Linked DNA regions of Homo sapiens. The protein of the gene in region 2 purifies or fractionates together with the protein of the main gene of each other region. This does not show direct contact. Each region holds a gene or a part of one and is shown on either strand. Other genes may lie near its edges. The genes, in order: AKAP9, PRKAR2B, CDK5RAP2 and PRKACB.

What was found.
Region 1: the proteins of PRKAR2B (region 2) and AKAP9 purify together in Homo sapiens (affinity purification with mass spectrometry; 5 studies listed by BioGRID and IntAct, with this or other methods). This does not show direct contact.
Region 3: the proteins of PRKAR2B (region 2) and CDK5RAP2 purify together in Homo sapiens (affinity purification with mass spectrometry; 5 studies listed by BioGRID and IntAct, with this or other methods). This does not show direct contact.
Region 4: the proteins of PRKAR2B (region 2) and PRKACB purify together in Homo sapiens (affinity purification with mass spectrometry; 9 studies listed by BioGRID and IntAct, with this or other methods). This does not show direct contact.

The regions. Positions count from the first base shown.
Region 1 is NC_000007.14:91,936,925-91,943,877, reverse strand, and holds the start of AKAP9 (A-kinase anchor protein 9), read right to left. Parts: upstream 3,017-6,953; 5' UTR 2,779-3,016; coding exon 2,731-2,778; intron 1-2,730. UniProt on the Homo sapiens protein: Scaffolding protein that assembles several protein kinases and phosphatases on the centrosome and Golgi apparatus. Required to maintain the integrity of the Golgi apparatus. Required for microtubule nucleation at the cis-side of the Golgi apparatus.
Region 2 is NC_000007.14:107,159,677-107,162,323, reverse strand, and holds the end of PRKAR2B (cAMP-dependent protein kinase type II-beta regulatory subunit), read right to left. Parts: 3' UTR 513-2,647; downstream 1-512. UniProt on the Homo sapiens protein: Regulatory subunit of the cAMP-dependent protein kinases involved in cAMP signaling in cells. Type II regulatory chains mediate membrane association by binding to anchoring proteins, including the MAP2 kinase.
Region 3 is NC_000009.12:120,577,133-120,584,355, forward strand, and holds the start of CDK5RAP2 (CDK5 regulatory subunit-associated protein 2), read right to left. Parts: upstream 3,036-7,223; 5' UTR 2,847-3,035; coding exon 2,788-2,846; intron 1-2,787. UniProt on the Homo sapiens protein: Potential regulator of CDK5 activity via its interaction with CDK5R1. Negative regulator of centriole disengagement (licensing) which maintains centriole engagement and cohesion. Involved in regulation of mitotic spindle orientation.
Region 4 is NC_000001.11:84,139,823-84,147,291, reverse strand, and holds the start of PRKACB (cAMP-dependent protein kinase catalytic subunit beta), read right to left. Parts: upstream 3,022-7,469; 5' UTR 2,931-3,021; coding exon 2,744-2,930; intron 2,017-2,743; exon of another isoform or gene 1,974-2,016; intron 1-1,973. UniProt on the Homo sapiens protein: Mediates cAMP-dependent signaling triggered by receptor binding to GPCRs.

The DNA.
Region 1 (6,953 bases), about 15 Mb from region 2:
TGAAGTCTCAGATAAACTTTGGAAAATGATCATTTAAAGTTGTTTCTGATGCCAGCAATATGGATTTCACATTAAGAGAATTCTAGATTAATGTTATTAAATTACAACCGTGCTAGGAAAGTAACACTTATTAATGACTCATTAATCATTCTGTTCATTCATTAAGCAAATATGTATGAATAACTATTTGAAAGGCATTATATTATGGTGCATTAATATCAATAGTAAAGCTTTCTTAGTAATTCTATAAAATGACATAGTAGTATTTAAAACACTTTAACAAAACGTGGAAGAATATCCCCCAAATCCTACTGCAGCTCATCCCTCTTTGTACTTATCACCCAGAGTCTGTCTCTCCCACTAAACAGTGAGCAACTTGAGAGCAGACACTGTCACCACCTCTAGGTATAAAATAGGGATTCAATATACGTTTGCTGAATAAAATTATAATCCAGAGTTTTTCAGTTCTAATCTGAAAGCACACGTTTATACAAATGAAATAATGTACATACTATTTTTGATAATGCCCTTTTCACACTATTTTTCATATTCCTATCAGTCTTCATAATCTTAATGGCTTTAAAATATTCCATCATATTTATATAACTTAGAAAATGATTCCCTTCGTGTTGTCTTTAAAAGTTATTTCCAGGGGTTTTTTTTTGTTTGTTTGTTTTCTGAAACAGGATCTCATTCTGTTGCCCAGGCTGGAGTGCAGTAGCATGATGATAGCTCACTGCAGCCTCGAACTCCTGGGCTCAAGTGATCCTCCCACCTCAGACTCCTGAGTAGCTAGGACTACATACAGGCGCACACCACCATGCCCTGCTATTTTTTTTTTTTATTTAATTTTTTGTAGAGTCTCACTATGTTGCCCAGGTTGGTCTTGAACTCCTGGTGTCAAGCAATCCTCTCGCCCCAGGCTCCCAATGTCAGCATTTTTATATTGTATAGCTAATGTTGCAGCAAACACACCTTGCCTTACAAGTCTCATAGATTTATATCTTACTGGAAAAAGGGCTAAATTCTAAAAGAAGATAATCTTTTACAACAAAAATTCACCTTAAACAGGTTTTTACCCCATACATAGAATTCTGAAAGATAAAGAAACACACAAAGAAACTAGAATTGTATTTTGCCACATCAACTACAACTGCAAGCAATTTAAATAAATCCTCTATTATGAAATGTGTATGTCCAAAGTAAACCATGTTTTGTAGGACTGCTTCACATATATTCAGGAAAGACATTTCTGGGGGCAGGCAATAAAAATTGTGAGGTAACAGACAAGTAAGACATCTAATCAGATCTTCAATGCTTTTGGAGGGGCACACACTTCACCTCCACTACTTCCGTAGATGCATAGAGCTTGCTCAGCCCCTCAGATTGCACAAGTGTAGGCTTTGGACTTCTAAAGATACCCTGATTCCCCTTTCCCACCATTTATAGATTCGAAAGTAAAAATTTACCTGGCTATATACAAGCATTTAAACCTTGATCTTAAATAGAGGGAGCTTATAGGAAAGTCAACTATATTTTAGAAATATGAAGCTAGTTTTTATATATATATTCATTTAACAAACTTGTGTTGAGCTTCTATCACTGCATCTCTGCGGTATGGCCCTTCATTGATAATAAATCACTAACCTGGTTTCCTTTGTTTATGTGAGGAGAAGAGAAAGGAAGAGAGGAAAAACAGTTACCTGTAATACAATTTTTGTCCAAGTATGACTGCTAACAATTATCTCTAAAAATAATATAATCCATAAAAGAAGACTTCATTGAAGGGAGGAAGGGGGCTTTTGAGCCCAGACAAAATATATGCTCAAATATGTAATTTTTAAAAGAAATATGCTACGCAGCTTATATTCTGTATATGTTAAATTTCTCATGAAGCCCAATGAACGATGCCTGTGTATAATTGTGTATTGTATTGTTTGCTTTACAGGCTTTTCCATAACCGTTCACACACACACACACACACACACACACACAACCAGGATTCGCCAGAGAGATATATAACAACTAAATTATTTAAAGCAGGAATTCTATAGGTGTTGGCATATGGAACCTTTCGGTCCTCAGAAGTTCCATTCACAGACTGCATTAACATTCCATAGGACACAAAAGCGCATGCCATGACAAAGACCTTCAAGTACAAACATACAAAGACACGCTTCTAAAAACGCCCCTAAAGCCAAGTTCACAGCTGGCACTTGTGGCACACACAAGCCACTGCTGAGACAGCTGTCACAGGCCAATCACACACACCCAAGAGTGCCAGCGTGCTACCTAAGGAAGACAAGCTGATGATCAGCGCACAAATCCCCAACCCAATAAAGAAAAGCCCTAAATCCCCACCCTGGAAAGCACAATGCCTGCACCACCCAGAAAACTCCTTAAAAAAATGAAAGATCGGAGGTTTAGAAGCAACTAAACACTAGTTTACAGCAATACAGTAAAAGGGGAGTTTTATTTGGACATTCACGAGAAAGGAGCCACAATATTCAATCCTCGCGGAAGTATTATCAGCTAGCACAAGGCTTTGTCCCCCAACTGGAAAAAGGGGAAAGGAGGAGGGCGAGGAGAGATGCAGACCCTAAGACCCTGCAGCACCTCCCTCTCGGGCAGTGCACTGGGGCTGCGGCGAACTCCGCTTCCCAGGCCCCCTCCCACCCCGTGCTAGCCACCGCCTCCCACCGCAGGCCCGGTTGCCTCGGGCTCTCCTACCTTGGCTTTGCCGGCCTCCAGCTTCTTCTGTCTCTCCTCGTCCTCCATGGCCTCTGCAAGGAAGGCAGGGGAAAACAGGGGTTGAGGGGTGGTTGGGGATAGAAAGGAAAGGTCGATTTGGACGGAGGTGGGACGGCAAGCTCCACGGCCTAGAGAGCCGATTCGGTCCGGCGCTCCCCCGCCCGAAGTGGAAGCAGTCTCCGCGCTCACTGGCGGATCGTCCTCAGCCGCACGGGAAGCGCCGTCACCGCCGCCGCCGCCGCCATCTTCGTCTCCACGTAAACACACGGCGAGGCGGGAGGGGCTGGAACGTCTGTCCGCGCAGCCGCCTCGTGGGCAGGTGCTCCTGGGGTGCCGCCCCGGCCCAGCCCTCCGGGGTCAACCCTTGCCAGGCCTGGGACCTGCCTCCTACCAGCGAGGATCCCGCCGTAGAGAGCGCCCTTCCCGCACATCAACGGCTCACAGGTGGCGGCCGAGCTGAGGGGTAGGAGAGACGGAGTGTGCCAGAGGCTCCTGGCCTGACCCCCACCCTCCGTCCGAGGAATCCACTGCTATTAAAACATGAGTTTTTTTTTTCCTTCAGGTTACAAAACTAACACACCTAATGGTGAAATTGGCGAACACCTACAAGCTCCAACGGAAAAGTTCCGGTGGGGGGTGGTGGGGGGGCGGACGCCAGGTTTTCTACCTACATTAACTGCTTGACTCAAGAATTATGAGAGCAGCTAATTGCTCTTATTACTTCCTTAGCCTGAAAAGTCCCTCCCTCTTCCCTCCACTGGTTCCCACTCAATCTCCGGTTCATCCTTATAGTCCCATCGCACACGCTGCCTCCAAATGGCTTTTCTGACCTCTTGTTCCCTCCACGGCAACCGAGACACATCCAGTCAAAACTTAGTCCCCTCCCCCGACTCTTTGGGGCTTCCCTTTAACAGTAGTGTTCTGAAAGGAGCCTGAGCTTTAGAACCTCGGTTAGGGACAATGCCAGACTACACTAACTTTCTAGCGTTAATGACAAGTTACCTATCCTCCCTGAGCCTACCTGGAATTTTTGGAAGGGTTGTTAATATATGTGACTGCCCTGACATATTAAAACGTCCTGAATAATGTCAGCTTTATTTCTCCTTGGACTTCCTTTAAGTACCCTGCACCATATTTTAATAATTTGTGTGCGTCTTAGTTCAGCTCATACTCCCAGCTCCTTGATGACAGAGACTCATCATAAGTCTTGCTCATCTTGGCTTTACTAAAATGACCAGCACAGAGCTCTGCACTCAATAAACGCTTTTTGGATTGAATTGAGCAGTGTTTATAAATTTAACATTACTATCTTTCCTTGTTTCCCCGACATGTGCTCCCTCAGTCCTTTGTGTTCGTCTCCCTGCCCTCCAATGCTCACATCCATTCCTGGAGTGAACTACACATTTTAATGTCTCTGGTTGATTACTCAGATTTATCATGTTTCTCCGTTGCTTTGAGCTAGGTTGGACTGAAAAACTAGCAGTTGTGAACAAAAAATAGGCTAAAATGAGTTCAAGCGTAGAAGTGGTGTTAAGTGAAAAATTGAGGTTAAAAAACAAAAAAGGAGATAATAAAGACCTTAAGTCTACCACAAACTGAAGATGAGTTTTAAATAGCCCTCATTTAGAAATCTTAGCTTTAAAAAAGATTTTTTTCTTAAGCTCCGTAATGCATACATTCTGCCAACTTCTAACAGCCAAGTGCATATTGTCCTGTTATCTCAACCTGAATTAGGAACCAGGTAAAATTAGACATTTTATCATAGGGATGAAAGAATTGAGGCAATAAGTGATTTACTTAGTCACCCATCAAATTAAGAGTAAGGACTAGAACTAAGTGTTCTAATAGTGCAGTGATTTAAATACTGCCTGGATTGAGGGATTATGAGTGTAGATGCTGATTGCCTAGGAGGGGGAAGCCCCAGGGTATCCAAAGCTATTCCTGTTTGTTAAAGGATACTGCTTTCTCGGTGACTAAATAAGTCAGCTGTTTGTAGGTGCTGAGAATGTTCAAGAATACCTTCCAAAGCAACAAGATTATTTCAATGTTTCCTTCACTGATAGCAGCCAATCATATACATGTCTAGTTTACATAATGGGTGCTCAATCAATGTTGAAAGTTAGATTTGTGTTAACTTCTATTAGAAGAGCAAGCATTGGGCACTAGTGTTCTGACTCTTCCTTATGGCACCTATTCTGTCATAACTTGTCATACCAATCATTAATTCATGTCATGTCATTCACTTACTCAGGTGATTCTTTCAGAAGATATTTCAGCAAAGACTTGAAAGAGATGAGGAGGCTGGGCGGGGTGGTGCACGCCTGTAATCCCAGCACTTTGGGAGGCTGAGCGGGGTGGATCGCTTAAGCTCAGGAGTTCGAAACCAGCCTGGGCAACATGACGAAACCCTGTCTCTACAAAATAAATAAATAAATAAATAAAAATAAAATACTGGGTGTGGTGGCGGGAGCCTGTAGTCCTAGCTACTCCAGAGCCTGAGGCGGGAGGATCACTTGAGGCCGGGAGGCCAAAGCAGTGAGCCCAGATTGTGCCACTGCACTCTAGAGTAAGGACCTAGACAACAGGTGACACTGTCCCAAAAAACAAGCAGGTGGTGGGTGGGGGTAGAGAGCCACGGAGATAGTTGAGGGTACAGCAAATCCAAAGAAAGGCCCTCAAGCGAGACCATGATGGACCTTCTCAAGGAAGAGTAGGAGGTGAGGGTGGCTAGAGTGGAATAAACAAGGGAAATAGTAGGAGATGAAGTCAGAAAAGTAACAGGGGGCCAGATCCTGTAGAGTTCTTTTCTTTCTTTCTTTCTTTCTTTTTTAAACGGAGCCTCACTGTGTCACCCAGGCTGAATGCAGTGGCCCAATCTTGGCTCACTGCAACCTCCCGGGCTCAAGCAATCCTCCCACGTCAGCCTCCTGAGTAGCTGGGGCCACAGGCGCACTCTGCCATAGCCAGCTTATTTTTGTATTTTTTGTAGAGGCAGGGTTTCACCATGTTGCCCAGGCTGGTCTGAAACTCCTGAGCTCAAGCAATCCGCCCGCCTCAGCCTCCCAAAGTGCTGGGGTTACAGGTGATCCACCATGCCCGGCTTCAGATCCTGTAGAGTTCTAAAGGTCATTGTAAGGACTTCAGCTTTTACTCTGGGTAAGATTAGGAGCCATTGGAGAATTTTGAGCAGATGAATGACATGATTTGGCTTATGTTGTTCACGGACATTTGGCTGCTATGAGGAGAAAGGGGGATCAGTTTGGATGTTATTTCAGTAATCCCAGATAATGGGAATTTGGGCCATAGTACTGTAGTGGAGGAAAAGATATGGAATCAGATTCTGGATATCTTTTGAACATAGAACCAATAGTATCATAGGAGTTGTATATTGGATATGAGGTTTGAGACAAAAAGAAAAGTCAAGGTTGACTCCAACATTTTTGGCTTGAGCAACTGAAGTGATGAAGTTGCCAGTAACCAAAATGGAGAAGAGAAAATCTGGGGACCAAGTGTTCAGTTTTGGACATGGTAATTTAGACATACACATTAGGCATCCAAGAACTGATGTCACCCTAAGACATCAGTTAGTCTGGATTCAGGAGACAGGTCCAAGCTAGAAATAGAAATGTGAGAGTAGTCAGTATTCAGGATGTAGATGGTATTTTAAGTTAAGGAATTGGATGAGATAATCTAGGGCCATGCTATTCAATACAACAGCTATTAGCTAGTCTGAATTGAGATGTGCTGTAAGTGTAACACTTTGGATTTGGAAGACTTAATATTAAAATAAAATAACAAAATATTGCACTATTTTTATATTATTAAAATGATTATATTTGGGACCTATTGGGTTTAATAAAATATATATTAATTTCACCAGTTTCTTTTTTTTTTAAATGAAGTTACTACAAAGTTTCAAATTACATATGTGGCTTGCATTTGTGGCTCACATTATTTTTCTATTGGACCATGCTGCTTTAAGGAGCAAGTTTAGATAGAAAGGTGTTACAAAGACTGAGTTTTGGAATACTTCAACTCTAAGAGGGAGGCAAGGTGAGCAGAATCTGCAAATGAGACTGAGAACAGTGGCTAGATATGTGAAAGGAATCAGTAGCCAAGCGAAGAAAGTGAAGGAGGAGGGAGTGATGAACCAAGACAACTGCTACTAATAGGTCACGTAAAATGAGGATTGGATATAGCAA
Region 2 (2,647 bases):
TGCCACCACGCCCAGCTAATTTTTGTATTTTTAATAGAGACGGGGTTTCACTATATTGGCCAGGATGGTCTCGATCTCTTGACCTCGTGATCCTCCTGCCTCAGCCTCCCAAAGTCCTGGGATTACAGGCATGAGCCATGGTGCCGGCCTTTTAAAGCATTTTAAATGGCATTTAGCCAGAGTTTATAATACTAATCCTAATGGTAACACATATACATTCACCTAAGTTGTGTCACAGGTAACGTGTATGTTAAAATATCTGCACTAAGCCCTAGTACATATGGATATGTAGAAAACAATACACACACACATACATACACACACACACACACACACACACACACCTTTATTTAAAATAAGGGAAAGCACCGTCACTCTTGGGGAAAAAGTCCTCACCCCTTTCCTTAGCCACGCATGATACACGAGAGGCTCTGTCCTTGAATGAATGGTCAACAGAGAATTCTCACATAGTAAGGAGTGTTGATTAATAATTAAATAATGACATCCACAAGTCAAACTTGAGCTGTTTTAATCAGATAATTTTACACATAAATTCCTAGTTAGCCAGATTGATTTGGTTATTCTAAATGGCCAAATAAATCTGCAACACACCACAATTATTTCTCCCACACATGATGAATAGCTAATAATTTTAAAAACCTATTGCCATACAGAACCATACTTTCTTACTATGTTATGCCCTGGGGGTTCGCTTCCACATGCCACATTGCTATCATGCTTTTCAATGAATTATGCATTATGCACGTCAGAAAACTTTAAAGAAACAAGCAAAAAAGTATGAAAAACAATAATTCATGTATTTTATTATAAAAGTGTGCTTTATTGTAAGGAAAATTTAAATATAACCAACAATACTGAAAATAATGTACGTGGCATTTATAGCCTTGGTCAAAGTTCTTTATTAAACAGGCGTTTGCTGTTCCATGAATAGTTAACAATTAGTTTATGCAACAAAATAGATAACTTGAAAAAGTGAGTAAGAATACAGAATGATGAACCAGGAATCTGGAGTTCTTTTGTGTTTTTTCTTGTTTAACAGACATGGCTTTTAAAATAAAATCTGAAATATAAAACAAGTCATCTTCATGTAGAGAGCTCTCTTTTCCTACAAGAAGGTTTTGCAAAAATGTTAAACAGTGTTCTAAAAATGTGGCTGAAGTTATACTTTACATACTTTAACTTCTTATATATACATTATCCAATTAACATTCTAACCACATTTTCATATACAAGTGGGACCATAAACATTCTCTAGTAAGACTACACTAGCACAGAGTAATTTTACCCATGTATATATATTCATTTGAAACCTGTTTCCCAAAATGAAATCACTCATTTAAAAGCAAACAACTGGTTAGAATTAATGTCTCTAGACACTGGGTCATGGGGCCTAGAAATCATGTAAGAGTATATTGCTTTGGTTGAATATAATTAAATTCATCTTATGTGGCAGCATACTGAGCATATCAATGAACAATGAAAATCTAGTACATCTGAGTTCTTTCTGCACTAATTTCAACTATGAGTCTACATTAAAGCAATGGCAAGGCCTAATGGTATATATGGTAAGGTCAGAAATTCATTTTGTCTTTATATAGGGTTATGCTCATAAAAATTTGTTTCTATTCCTCTAGAGGATGTTTTTAAGAATTAAAAAAACCAAACAAACCCATATTGGCTGCTGATCAATGAGATTGTGGGTTGGCAACCATCCTAAGAAAGAACGGAAACCCAAGGGAACAGATGTCTACATAGGACTGTATTATGCAGGCCTAGTGAAGAACAAAGAAATAAACTGTGGGCATGCTGATAAGGATCCCACATTATTTTTGGGATAGGAGAGATTTTTTAGGTGTAAAATCTTAAAGAATACAAAAAATGTCGGATCTTAAGTTTAAATCACTTTTTAAAAAAACAAAACTTTGTGACATTAAATGTCAAGATCAAATTTTTAAAGACATAGAATACAGAGAATTGCAAAATAAAAAAAAGCAGATATATGCTTGATGAGGGAAAAATGCATTAATGATCTCTCATCTAAAACACTGTTTTCCTTATTATCATAATGACTAAATTGCCTGTCCATAAAACCACTGGAATATGTATGTTACTGACATTATGCCAACAAAGTCAAAATGTACTTTATTGCAAAAATATAAAAAGTTTTAAAACTGCATATGATATTTTATACCATTTCACCAATAGGCCAAGGCCAGCACATAACTTATCAAGCTAGAAAACTTTAAAACAAAAATGATTAAAATTTTACTGTGTTTAATGAGTTATAAAAAAAAGTGATGCCATGCTGTGTAGCATGTTTAATTGCCAAGTGCCCTCTTACATGGGGATAGTCACTAATATGATTATCAGTCTGAATAAGTAAAACACATATAGCCTATGATAACATCCTTTAATTATCTTCTTAAACACAGATACTTTCTATATATTACAATCATTTTAATAAACCTTTCAGTCATAATTTTGTGGAGTACAAAGTCATTTTATCAGTATGTTGATTTTTTTATGAACTACTCTTTAGAAAGTGATGTTAAAGCCTATTGACTATTAAATCACTACTGTTTATTGATACGTTGTAAATGTAAAAAAAGGAAAAAACCTGAAATCA
Region 3 (7,223 bases), on a different chromosome or scaffold from region 2:
AGGCACAACACTTGAGGCCAGGAGTTCAAGACCAGCCTGGTCAACCTGGTGAAACCCCGTCTCTACCAAAAATACAAAAATTAGCCAGGCGTAGTGGGGCATGCCTGTAGTCCCGGCCACTAAGTGGCTGAACCATGAGAATTGCTTGAACTCTGGAGGCGGAGGTTGCAGTGAGCCAAGATCACTCCACTGCACTCCAGCCTGGGCAACAAAGCGAGACCCTGTCTCAAAAAAAAAAAAAAAAAATCATAGAGACAGAAAGTAGAATGGTGATTGTCAGAGGCTGGGAGAAGGGGGGAATAGGGAGTTACTGTTTTAACAGGGACACAGTTTCTGTTTTGCAAGATGGAGAGTTACGAAGATAGATAGTGGTGACCGTTGAGCAATAATACAAATATATTTAATACAACTGAACCATGCTTTAAAATGGTTAAGATGGAATGTATGCAGTATCTACGTCCTGCAAAGGCAGGGAGATGAGGGAAAGGAGAATATTTGCTGATCTGTTGAGTAGTTACTCTGGGTCAGACACTGAGCTAAACTTTTTAAGATTCATTTTAATCCTTATGCCAACCCTAGGCTTTATACCAACCCCTTTTACAGATGATAAACACTGAGGCTCACAGATGATGAGTGACTTGCCCCAGATCAAGGGGTTGTTAAGTAGCAGAACTGGGATTAAAACCCAGCTAGGCCTGGGACCCCAAAACCCAAGTGTCTGGCCAAAAAGCACTGAAATAAGAATGGCTATCTGAGAGAATAATAATGGAAGTTATGATAACAGCAATAAGCAGCATTAAAAGTATAAAGCAGCAGACTGTGAAGAGCAGATTTATATTTAAAAAATAGTTCTCACGCCGGGCGCGGTGGCTCACGCCTGTAATCCCAGAACTTTGGGAGGCCAAGGAGAGCAGATCATGAGATCAGGAGATGGAGACCATCCTGGCCAACATGGTGAAATCCCGTCTCTACTAAAATACAAAAATTAGCCACGCACGGTGGTGCACTCCTGTAATCCCAGCTACTCCGGAGGCTCAGGCAGGAGAATTGCTTGAACCCGGGAGGCGGAGGTTGAAGTGAGCCGAGATCGCGCCACTGCACTCCAGCCTGGTCACAAAGCAAGACTCCGTCTCAAAAAAATAAATAAATAAAAAATAGTTTTCAAATTGTAGTATAAAAAACTATTAGAGGTGCAAAGGACAATACAAGAGAGAAGCCATACTCCCAATATATTGGGGCAGTGGATGTAAAATAGATAGAAAAGGGCATGATGAAATATCACAGGACCCAATTAGACAGGAACTGCAAAGCATCTTAGTCTGTGCCTCATACATGAAGGTTCTCAATAAACAGAAAAACCATTTGTCCAGGTTTACCCAAGATAGGCCCTCTTTATGTCTGCTGCCCGGGCATAAATATTAATTATTTTCACTTTCCTTTTTTTTTTTTTTAAAGATAGAGTCTCACTTTGTCACCCAGGCTACAGTGCAGTGGCATGAACACAGCTCACTGCAGCATCAACCTTCCGGGCTCATGCAATCCTCCTGCCTCAGCCTCCCGAGCGGCTGGGACTACAAGTGCATGCCACCACGCCTGGCTAATCTTTGTAGTTTTTGTAGAGATAGGATTTCACCATGTTGCCCAGGCTGATCTCACACTCCTGAGCTCAAGAAATCGGCCCACCTCGGCCTCCCCAAGGGCTAGGATTACACAGGTGAGCCACCGCACCTGGCTCTTTTCACTCTTAAGTGTCCCAGTTAGCACAATAAATAACATGGTCACCCTTTCAATTAGGATCTGTTGACTAAAAGCAGCAGCTTGTCCATAGTAGAGCTGGATAAACAGTGCAGGTTCTCCGTCAGGGCTCTCCTCCTCTTCCCTCTACTCACTCTCCAACCAGGAGTCTAGGACAACCACAGGGGCCAGCCGTGGAGCAGAGTTGCGCTCTGTTAGGCCTTCCTACCAGACCCCAGCTCCACCAGCAATGGGGACTCCCACAGTCTCTTGGGGCAGGTCCATGGGAGGCCACTCTTGGCCATTATTCCCTGATTCATATCACCTTTGATGACAGTAGTAATAATGACACTAATGGCAACACAAGATCATTTTTTAAGCACTGATTATGTGGCAGGCACTACACCTGCCAAGCAAATGGCTCGACAGGCATCACCTCTTTTAATCCTCACCCCAACTCTGTTGGGTGGATATTACTAGCCCATTTTACAGATGGGAAAGCCGGTGAAATCACTTTACCAAGGTCACACAGCTAGTCAGTTTACAGGGCTGGATTTGAATCCAGTTTTGTCCAACTCTAGCCAAGGTTCTTAATCATTGCACTCCATTGCCTCCTGGGTGGCCACTATGTGACCCAAAAAGCAAAGTCTGGGCATACCGGCTACACTCTCTCCATAATGAAAACAAACTCTCAAACCAGAAGGAACCATCAGGTGCCCTCAAGGTCCCTGTTCTCCACCAATCCCCACTAACGGGATACTCCAAGTGGCCCCACCCTCGTCCTACTCTTTCAGAAAACTCCTTACCTGTTCTTCACACGCTCTACAAAGTACATGGCGCAATGCTACTGGCAATTGTGGTGCAGGTCGCGGCTCCCAGCCCTCCAGAGTGTCAGGTGGTGGGCCCCCCAGAGACCCTCTCCGAAGGAACCCACCCCACACACTGCCCCTGGCCAGACACCCTCAAGAGCAAACCCCAAGGCCGCGTTAGAACGAAATCCCACCAGCTGGAACCCCGGCCCGGTTACCACGACCACCAATGCCCCGGCCGCACCTGCAGCCGCTGAGCGTCCCAGGGACGGTGACGTCCTCTTCCAACACCAAGTCCATCATGGCTACAGAGGTGGCGACAGCGTTGGTGTCTGTGGCGGCGGCGCCACTAGTACCCCCCGCGATAGCGACCCGCCGGGCTCCCCAGGTCCCCGCCCCCTCCACCCCAGCTCTTGTTCAGACTCTGGCGGCGCCGCTGGAATTCAAACCACAGACGCCGCCATCTTTCCCGGCGCTTCTTCCTACGGAAACGAGGCGGGGTCACGGAGGCGCACGCAGTGAAGCCGACCGGCTGGCGCCAGAGGACGGGCAGGGAAGCGGGGATAGGTGCCATCTTAACTAAGGGCAAAGCATCCGTGCTTAAGCCAAGCAAAAATAAGAGACAAAAAAAGGCCGGCTGCCATTTTTTGTGAGGGCACTTAGGGAGAGGCGAGGGCGGGTGCCATCTTTGTTGAGGGCCAAAGCGGGCCCTAGTCCGTTAATTTACGCGGGAGATGGAAATGAATACAGCCACTCAGGAATCCTCAAAGTTCCTAACCTCGTGTTTGCTTTTCTAGAATAATGACCCCAAAACTTTGGGATTTGACCTTAAGTTGAAACTCAGATAACTGAGTGCTGCCTTGCTTTGGAAAAATACTACGTGCGGAATCTCAAGGCAAACAGTAATTTGCAGACTTAGTTTGAAGCAAATAACTCATTCCCATGAGCCAGTGGTCAACAGCACTCCCACTCCAGTCTCTCACCTATTGGTCTTTTATTACCATTAGGACTCAAAGGCACCTGTGGTCAGAAAACTGAGGGCCAGCAAGAGGAAAGGACTCTCCCAAAGTAATTAAGTATTGACAATGTCTTTCAACTGGAGTGGGGGTCTGCAGCTCCTGCCAACTAGATGAGGGCTCTCTGCATAACCCTGGCTGCCTTTCTTTTTTTTTTTTTTTGAAATGGTGCCTCTGTCGCCAGGCTGGAGTGCAGTGGCCCGATCTCAGCTCACTGCAACCTTCACCTTCTGGGTTTAAGCGATTCTTCTGCCTCGGCCTTGCGCCACCACACCCGGGTAATTTTTGTATGTTTAGTAGAGACGGGGTTTCACCATGTTGGCCAGGATGGTCTCAATCTCCTGACCTCGTGATCTGCCCACCCCGGCCTTCCAAACTGCTGGGATTACAGGCGTGAGCCACAGCACCGGCCCCTTGGCTGCCTTTCTTAAAGCACATAGCAATCACCAAACACTTAGATAATCTTGGCAGAGCTTAAGCAATGAAATTAACCTTCCCCTCCTCAACTCAGTGTTGCTCCTTCCTCTGCAGGCCCTTGTGAGAGAGCCCGATGAAAATAACTTGAAATGGTTGGTGAGTGGATAGATAGTGACTTTCCCAGTAATCTTGAACAATTCCCCTTTCACCCTGTTTCCTCATTCTTTTTTTTTTTTTTTTAAATAGAGACAGGGTCTCACTATGTTGCCCAGGCTGGTCTTGAACTCCTGGCCTCAAGCAATCCTCCCACCTTGGCCTCCCAAAGTGCTGGGGTTATAGGCCTGAGCCACTGCACCAGGCCCTCATTCTTCAGTTAAGTAATTAACCAATTATTGATACTTTTCAAAAGAAGCCTTCCCTAGTCATTTAATCTAAATCAAGCCACTTCTTGTATTCCTAGCAATGCAAATTATTCCTTTGTGGCACTTACCATATTTTGCAATTTGTGTGTGTGTGTGTGTGTGTAAAATCATTTTTTAAATGTCTTTCCTTGCACTAGACTGGAAGCTGCATGGGGCAGGGACTATATTCTGAATTGTTCACTGCTATATCCTCAACACCTAGCACTATGTCTGCCACTCAGCAGCTATTTGAAAATGTATGTTAAATGAATGAGTGATTCAATCAATCAGTCTGGAAATAAGGCCAATACCTATCCTGCAAGGTTTTTGTGAGAATAATCAGAGATACTTTTAGGACCTCTGTCAATAGTAATTCTGTGTATCCCAGATTCATATTCATTCTCTCTCTTTCTCTCTCTCTCTCTGTCTCTCTCTCAGCTTTAGTTAGGCTTCCAAAGCCCGCGATTATTTGCCTGTCCCCCTTCTTTCTCTAGATCTTCAACCACACCCACAATTAGCAATGATAAAAGCATGAAAAAGAGGGAAAGCTTAGCACACCTGGTGCACTGCCTCAGGAACGGGGCAGTCCTTGAAGCCCAGGAACCAATACTCCTTGCCAGTAAGTTCAACCCATGAGATAGGTGTGTCCAAAAGCAGGGAAGTTGGGGTGTCAGGATTCCCACCCTGGCTCTGCCACCAACTCTGTGATCTTTGGCAGATCACCTTTTTTTTTTTTTTTGAGATGGAGTTTTGCTCTTGTTGCCCAGGCTGGAGTGCAATGGCACGATCTCGGTTCACCACAACCTCTGCCTCCCGGGTTCAAGCGATTCTCCTGCCTCAGCCTCCCAAGTGGCTGGAATTATAGGCATGCACTGCCACGTCCGGCTAGTTTTGTATTTTTAGTAGAGGCAGGGTTTGTCCATCTTGGTCAGGTTGGTCTCGAACTCCTGACCTCAGGTGATCCACCCACCTCAGCCTCCCAAAGTGCTGGGATTACAGGCATGAGCCACCCCACCCGGCCTGGCCAATCACTTCTCTGTGGACCTCAGCTTCTACATCTGTTAAATGAGAGGGCTGAACCTCTCAGGGTCTCTCAGGATGTTACAGCTCTGGAGGTGATTTCTACATTTCTTTTTTTTTTTTTTTTTAAGATGGAGTCTTGCTCTGTTGCCCAGGCTGGAATACAGTGACGCGATCTCAGCTCACTGCAACCTCCTGGATTCAAGCGATTCTCCCACCTCAGCCTCCCAAGTAGCTGGGATTACAGGCACCTGCCACCACGCCCAGCTAATTTTCGTATTTTTAGTAGAGACGGGGTTTCACCATGTTGGCCAGGCTGGCCTCGAACTCCTGACCTCAGGTGATCCACCCACCTCGGCCTCCCAAAGTGCTGGGATTACAGGTGTGAGCCACTGTGCCTGGCTTCTGTGTTTATTTCAAAGCTACTAACATACAACCAACTCTCTCCTGGGGAGGGAGGCTAACACTTCCCACATGAAAGAACTAACTTTGCATCTCCAGCCAATGAAAACTCTTGAGAATATAAACAAGGAAGAGAACTTATACATTTTGAGCATGTCTTATACGTCACTTGTTCCAGGCATATTACATGCACCACCTCATTTAACCCTCCCAACAACCTTCTGCAGGAGGCGCTACTATCTGACTTACAATTGAGAAGACTGAGGCTGCAAAAGGTAAAAACTACTTACTGAAGGTCCTACAGCTGGTAAGTGCCAGAGCTGGAATTGAGACCAGGGCCCTTTGAATTCCAACACCTTGATTGTTTCAGGCAACCTGTCATCCCCATTTGGGTTTCTCTTTTGCTTTAGAATTTAGTACTAAGAGGCAAGGTCTACATCCAGACGACAGTATTTAAGGGTTGTGTTCACCAGACTCTACTCCTTGGGAAACTGCTTCAAAGTGGCTAAGAGGTGAATCTTAGTGTGGGCAGTTTACAGAACTGGAAGTCTGGACACCTGGATTCTGACTCTGGAAACTCCTCCCATTTATCCTGTGACCTGGGGTTCCTTCCCCTTGCTACACTTCGATTTTCATGTGTAAAATGGGGAGGACAATGCTGAGTTCACATGGTTGCCTCATCTAATTGAATACCTTAGACATTATTGAAGATGAAAGAACCTGTGAGGAGTTGGGTTGTTTTTTTAACTTATTTAATTTTTTTTTTGGACACAGGGTCTTGCTTTGTCAACCAGGCTGGAGTACAATAAGAGTGATCATAGCTCACTGCAGCCTCCACCTTCCAGGCTCAGGTGATCCTCCCACCTCAGCCTCCCGAGTAGCTGGGACCACAAGCAGGTGCCACCATGCCGGACTAATTTGTTTATTTTTAGTAGAGATGGGGTCTTGGTATGTTGCCCAGGCTGGTCTCGAACTCTTGGGCTCAAATGATCCTCCCACCTCAGCGTCAGAAAGTACTGGGGTTATAGACATGAGCCATCACGCCCAGCCTAGGATCTCTCATTATGATTAGTCCATTGCCTTGTTCAGCATGACCATGTCCCTGGGTTGCGTGCTAAACCCTTTAGTGAACCTAGAAACTGAAAATAGAATCAATTGCACAAAGGAAAGGCTATTTGGAAGTTGGTTTTCCTGCTACTGTAGTGGTTTCATGTTCAGAGACAGAGGCCTTTGTCCTGTCTCTGTCTCACCATGATCTTTCTGCCAAACCTAGAGGTGACGTCACTACCACCAGCTGTTTGGGCTATCTGGGGCTATCTCCTTGACAACAGCCACCCAACCACAAAGCTGGCATTATTATTTCCTCAGACAAGGTCATATCAAATGGCTGGGAGGAAGTAGCTTGCAGTCAGATGTTTTTCATT
Region 4 (7,469 bases), on a different chromosome or scaffold from region 2:
TTATGATTTTGCTAGAGGACATCCATAATCAAAACTGCTCATTTGTTTAATATATTTAAATCTAAGATTTACTAAAATGGATTTGTATTTACAAGAGAAATAGCCTGTCAATTCATAGGAAAAGGGAAAGAAAAAGTATTTGATGGTATTGACCTATTTGCTTCTTAAAATACTGTAGTTAGACCTTCATTAAGTCAGCATTGTATAACTCTACACATTTATGATCAAAGGAAGATTAAAAAGCTAACTATAATAAATTTGCTAGAAAGAGAACTTAACGCATGTCAATGCTCTCATTCATTCTGAGTTGGAACAAAAAGCAGAATTCCTCCATGCTTTTCTTTGAACTTCATGTATTTATATGTGCATGCAATTAGCTGTTACATATTTATTTAATCAAACAGGAATTTCTGTTACTTAGTTTAATAGTAAAAGATGAAACACCTGAGACCACTATGTGGCCTTTGTTCTGTGTTTCTTCCTATACATAATGTCACTGGACACGAAAGAAACTTGGATTGAAGCATGCTGCATTTCATGTCTCCTAAATTGGTAACTGATCTTTATACAAAGGTTTATGAATTTTTTTTGTAAATTGATGTAGTTTCTATGCTTAGTTTATTTCATTATAAAAACACTTTAGGAACAAACATATTCAGTGTTTATCATCAGGAGACATTACATTCCCTTGTCAAATGAGTCATGCAAGTAAACTGCTTTAAGTAGCTTTGAAGAATGTGGTTCATATGAAACTTTGTACAGTCAGAACTCCTTCTATAACTCATTCGCCAAATAAATAAAAATTGTGTTTTCACCACAAAAATAAACCTTGGAATTTTGAAATGATCGGATTCCTCTATTTCAGCTCTATCAGTGTTTTCTCCTCTACAATAATACATTTCATAATAGGAAATTATAGCTTCATGCTACCATACTCATCCTTAGACATAAAATTATTATCTCTATTATGGTATTCAGGGATATAAAAAGGAGAGTCAAGTAGAGGAATGCTTAATTAATGAACATTCAGTTACTCTTTAAGTATTTCTTACATCATGCATATTATTTGCAGCGCTACATGGTTTGCTCCTAATTTTATTTGTGTACAAGAATCCTATTTGTTTTGACTTCACAATAAAAAAAAAACAAAACAGCATTTTATCCAATAGAAATCATGGCTCATGATACTATTTTCCATTACTAGATTTTAAAATATGTTTTAGAAAGCATCACAGATCCCATACATTTAAAAAGTGGTGAAAGTCTAGTTCAAACATAACTTTTAATTATTAAAAACCCCTAACATTCATTTATTTGAGACACTTTTACTAAACACCCACTATATGAAGAGCAGGTATTAATGAAACAGAAATTAATTCAATTCTGTCTTAATTCCTCATTTAACTTTAAATTAAAACATACTTGAAATGCATAAAAATAATTTCCAAAAGGATTTAAAAGACTGCAATTTAAAAGAATAGGGCAAGGACAATAATTAACAAGCTTTTGTTACATGGTAAAGTTTAATATTATACCACTATTTTAATATTCAACAGTTCATTAACTTGAAGATATATATTCATATTCCTCATCCATCAACTTGCTATACAGTAAAGACTATAAATAACCCAAAACCTTTTAAGTGGAAAAAATGCACAAATACATGTTCTTCCTCAATCTCCCAAAAATAGTTTGAAGAATGTAAAAAAATTTCTGATTTAGTAAAAAATTAATTCAAATAAGCTTCTATAACACTGTCAAGGTGCTGTATAAACCTAGGAGTAAATTTTGTAAGCCATTCTTGATTTTGCTGTTGTGGTTGTTAAGCTGAGTTTTCTTCCTTAACTGCTACCAAATACATAAACAGAAAGAGTCAAACGCTAGTGCTATTTGATGATCAAACAAACACACCAAAGAGGGCAAAAGTTTCAAGGGTAATTCTATTGTTCCTCTAATTGGAGTCACAGAAATACCTTGAGGAGGGTCCAAGGTGAGATGTAGAATGGCGGCACTAGTATTGTTTATATGTGCAATTTATCTTTTAGAGTGTATGGCACCAAAAATGGTTCCCCAGCACCATTTTAGCAAAGCTGCAAGTTCAAACATTTTAACATGCCTGAAAGAATGTGATTCATGCATAACCAACTTTTCCTGCATTTGAGTCATATGTATAAATAACATAAAATATAATTATAAAGTTTTTGATATCCATAATGTTATAAGTGTAAGAATTTAGATAGAATAATTATGTTTTATTTTAGAAATTCCTGTTTGTAAAACTGAAATAACTTTCTCACATGCATTTAAAAATAAAACCATGGCAAACACAATAGAAATGTAATTATAAATTCAAGAGTCTTGTTGCCCCTTTCAAAGTTTAAAGCTTATAAATACAAGACATTTTAAGAAGTAAACAGATGGTTGTTTCTGAAACTTAAGTATTTCATTTTTATGTAAGAACAACAAAAAAAAGTACATTAGAAATGATGTAAGAATTTTATAGAAAATCTTGTCACTGATATTGAACTTAGTCAAAAATAAAACCATACAATGATGAAAGCTGAATGATTCAGCTCAACTTATAATCAAGTTTTTATGGAATTCTTTCAACTTCATCTTGCAAAATGTCCTTGTGAAAATCAGAAAACAACAAACAAAAGAGGGTTCTTTATGTTTGATTGTAAAACTCCAATTACCATTTTAGTTGCTAGTTATAATGTATCATTTAAAAAACAAAACTTACTTGATCTGTCCCATAAGGCAGTATGTTCAGAGAAATGAAGGCTGTCATTTTCCAGAGCTGTTTTCTGATCATGTGCAGTACCTTTAGAGTGTCTATGAAATAACCGGCTAGCAAAACCTTCCAATTTCTGAAGAGCTGTAGTTGTACCTGTATACTGGTTACAAGGTGGTTCTCTATAAGCTGCCATTCATGTGCATTTACACTTTACTTAATGTAACTGCAAATGTTTCCAGAAGGAGCTCACAACTTCTTACACAGAAGCTAAGAGCTATGCATGTGTCAAACTTCCTGTTTGCAGGGTATTCAAACCACTACTGCTGTTCTGTTTCCTGTTAATATAAAACAGCACATTACTGAGCTTTTCTTAGCAAAACACTTTTCAGCTAGAGTTGAGGATTTTAAAAACTTGCAATATCTGCCTAAAAGGCTTTATGTTTGGGTGTTTTAATATTAATATATAGGCTAATGAGAGCATTAAATATAAAGCTTTATATATATAGTAGGCTAAACATTCTTTAAAAAGAAAACTAGTTAAACATGTATGACAAGTCTATGCAAACAACTGAAGGCCAAGCTGTCCTCCAAACACAACATGCTAAAGACAGGTTGTATTTTTTCTAGGAAATCAACTAATATACAGATTTTATGAATCCTTATAAGCAGCTAACTTTTCATAAAAAAAAACTAGTATGAAATGGGTATGAAAAAACTCTTGCAAAACAAATTTATAACACGTATAAATAAAACAATGTGAAATAGCACTTTAAAAAATTGAATGTTTCTAATTCATTGATTTAGGCCTAATACATACAGGAACTACATACACTTAGTATGTCAGTATTGCTTATCAAACTTATAATCTGCTGACATATGTCTATTACCAGGGGTACATTTTAAAACATTCTAAAATTTGAAAAGAACAAAATACAAGATTTAAATTATATAAAATCCACCATAGCAAGAAATTTCAATTGAGAGAAAAAAGTTCCTTCTAGTTGGCTGAGACATGTTAATTTTAAAACCTTACCACTGAAGACTACTACTTACCTAAACCCCTGATTTAGTGATCTCACTTAGAAACACCTCTCTATTTTTTTTTAAACGTTGTTTCACTCTGTCTCCCAGATTGGAGTGCAGTGGTGCGACCTCTGCTCACTGCGACCTCCGCTCCTAGGTTCAAGCGATTCTCGCCCCTCAGACATCCGAGTAGCTGGGATTATAGGCGCGCACCACCATGCCCGGCTAATTTTTGTATTTTCAGTAGAGATGGGGTTTCTCCATGTTGGCCAGGTCAGGAGTTGTCTCAAACTCCTGGCCTCAAGCGATACGCCCGCCTTGGCCTCCCAAAGTGCTGGGATTACAAGTGTGAGCCACCGCGCCTGGCCAAAACATCTCTTTTGATTAAAAGTAAGTAAAACTTGCCTTGTCAATTTTCAGGAAAGAAAGTAACCTGTGGCATTTAACAAAAATTTTGAGTACTTGTTTTTTTGACACTAAAGGATAAGAAATTTCCGTGGTTCTCTTTGGAAGCAGAGGGGAGGGGAGGGAAGGGAAGGAAAGGAAAGAAAGAAAAAGGTCTATCTAAAACAATCTATCTAAAAAAATCTTACTTCAGATTTACTGCCAACTGTTTGACAAACATAAAAAATAGAAACAATACTGATAAGTAAAATAAATAGGAACAATAATGTAATCAAATTAGGACTACATAAAAGGCCAATAAGAAAACACTGATTAGTGAATTTTGCCATTTAACAGTTCATTTGTGTATACTTTGTGTAATGGAATTCATATCAATCTAAACAAGTATGTAACAGTATCTATAAGATAAACTTAAATTTATAGCTTTATGTATAAATATTATGTGTGAATAACAGTTAACAAAACACTGACCAATGAATTTTGCCATGTAACAGCTCATTTCTGTATACTTTGTTTTGTGTAATAAAATTTTTATCAATCTAAACAAATATGCAACAGCATCTATATGACAAAATTCTTAAATTTGTAGCTTTATGTATAAATATTATGTGTGCATAACAATAATTTGTTTCTTAACATCTGGTAGTGCCTTACACAAAACAGACACTTATTAAATGTCTGTAGTCTTCAACAAATATCTACAGAGCATGGACTGATTCTGTAAGGGAAGAAGTGGATAAAATTACTGAATTCCCTTGATTTGCTCTACTGAAGGAAATTCTAATCATCTTCAAGGCTTAGTTCAAATGTCACCTCTTCAGTGAAGTCTGCCACATACTTCCTAGGAAAACAAACTTTGCTGCTTTGTTTTCACTGACCTCATAATATTATGTTAAAAGGTACTGTTTATGAATTTATATGACCCTAAATTGTGAGTTACTTGAATTCATAAATGAAATGCATGTATTACATACTCAATAAACATGTTAAAAGAAAAAAGTATTCACTCATTTTTAACAATTTAAAGGTCTAAGTAGAATCACCGAATACTTGAAAATGTTTGAATTTTATTTATGATGGGACCATATTTATAGATAATCCAAGAAGCACCAAGTTGCTCATATATAGAGACAAGAGTAATAGAACTGTTATCATTGAACTTCTCCTTTTTTCTATTTGTTACTAAATTTTATTCATTCTTTGAATTACATTTTTACTCAGTGCCAATGTGGACTTCTTAACTTCTTGTTTTCCCCGCTTCCAATTACCCCCTTTAATCATTCACCTCTCTGACATATTAACCTCCCCAAAGTATTACACTCATGGTATTCCATTGCCAAATACACAAACTAATCGTAACATTTCAGCTGGACCGTATTCATTTTTAACACATCTAGCCAGATTTTTTATTTATATTCAATGTTGCTCAAGTACAGAAGTTGCAGATTCCTAACTAGAACACTAAGATTACTTTATTTAAAACAATGCATAAGCTTTAAAACAAAATTACTAAAGCAAAAAGAGTAAACTTCACTAGATGAGTATCTTGAAAACACCGTATTTTAAATCTGCACTGTTTTAAAAATAAAATTGTTTCAATTTGTTATCAAGTCCTTCCAGAAAATAGAATATTTAATATTTAAAGCAATGTTTCTATATGTGGTAATGTGACCAGGAAGCTATTGCTATAGAAGTACTTCGGATATTTGATTTTTGATTAAGAAATAAAAATAAAAAGAAGAACTCTACTGGCATCTACTGCTAGAAAGAAACAACTGCAGTTTTAACTAAAACTATGAATTCCTTCATAACTGCAATTAACTTTAAGAAGTATATTGCTTGTTATTCTTCCTAGCGGTGTTTCCACAACTTTAATTCGCACTAAATGTCTCGCCATGCACCGAGAATTTACCAGAATAGCTTATCTTGTAGTTAAATAAGATTTTAAAACTAGAGAGTAATCAACTTCATGAGGTTGATTTTATTCCTCCTTCATTCTGCATTAATTTTTAAAATTATAGAAATTTTCAGAGTTGAACCAGCTTTAATTGCCACAAAATACCACAAAATATTGGTTTCTTTTATTTAATAATAGTGATGACACATTTACCAAGCACTTTACCACATATAAAGTGATTTACTCTGTAAAACCATTGTGAAATTACTGTAATGCACCTGAGATCCTTACAAATAAAGTAAGCAGCACAGGTATTATTATCCTTATTTTAAGATGCAAAAAAATAAACATTAAGTGACTTGCCCAAAGTCACCTAGGTCTTCAAACTCCTAGATCAGGGTTTCTTGTACTGCAAGACACTGATTACCACATGAAGTAAACATTTTATTTTTAAATGCAGTTATTTTCCAAATAAGAGTGAAGAAGTTGGGGTGAAAAAATAGTGGTGGGTAAGATTCATTCTTGGATATATTGTCCCAGGTCTGAAAATCTGCTATGAGAAGGTTTTAATTAAGACGGTCACCTATAGCCATAAAATTTCATTGTCCATGTTTCTTACAATCATCTTGGGGCCAAGCAGAACTATGTACTTTAGAGTTTAAAGGTTAAATAAAAGAAAAACATGAAAACATATTTAATGTGTAAATGATGTATGTGCTCCATGTAGAGGACAAATGACATGACTATAACTCCTGCTATTCAAATAAAGGTTTTAGGGTAATAGTGTTGCTTTTTCCAGAATGTTATATATAAGTGGACTTATAGACTATGCAACATTTTCAGATTGGCTTCTTTCATTTAGTATAGTATGGCAATTGTGATTTATCTATGTTGTGTATCTTAATATTCACTCATTTATATGGCTAAATTCTATTGTATGGAATTACCACAATTTATATATCCATTTACTGTTGAATTGCATTTGCACCTTTGTCAAAAATCAATTGACCATATTTGTGTGAGTCTATTTCTGGACTCTCTATTCTCTTTCACTGACCTATATATGTGTCAATTCTTTCACCAATACTATACTGTCTTGATTACCATAGCTTTCTAGTAAGTCTGAAATCTGATAGTGTAAATCTTCTATTTTTTTTTCCTTTTTTTCTTGAGACGGAGTCTCAGTCTGTCGCCCAGGCTGGAGTGCAGTGGTGTCATTTCGACTCACTGCAACCTCCGCCTCCTGGGTTCAAGCTATTCTCCTGCCTCAGCCTCCCAAGTAGCTGGGACTACAGATGCATGCCACCACACCCAACTAATTTTTTAATTATTTTTAGTAGAGACAAAGTTTCACCGTGTTAGCCAGGATGGTCTCAATCTCCTGACCTCGTGATCCGCCCACCTCAG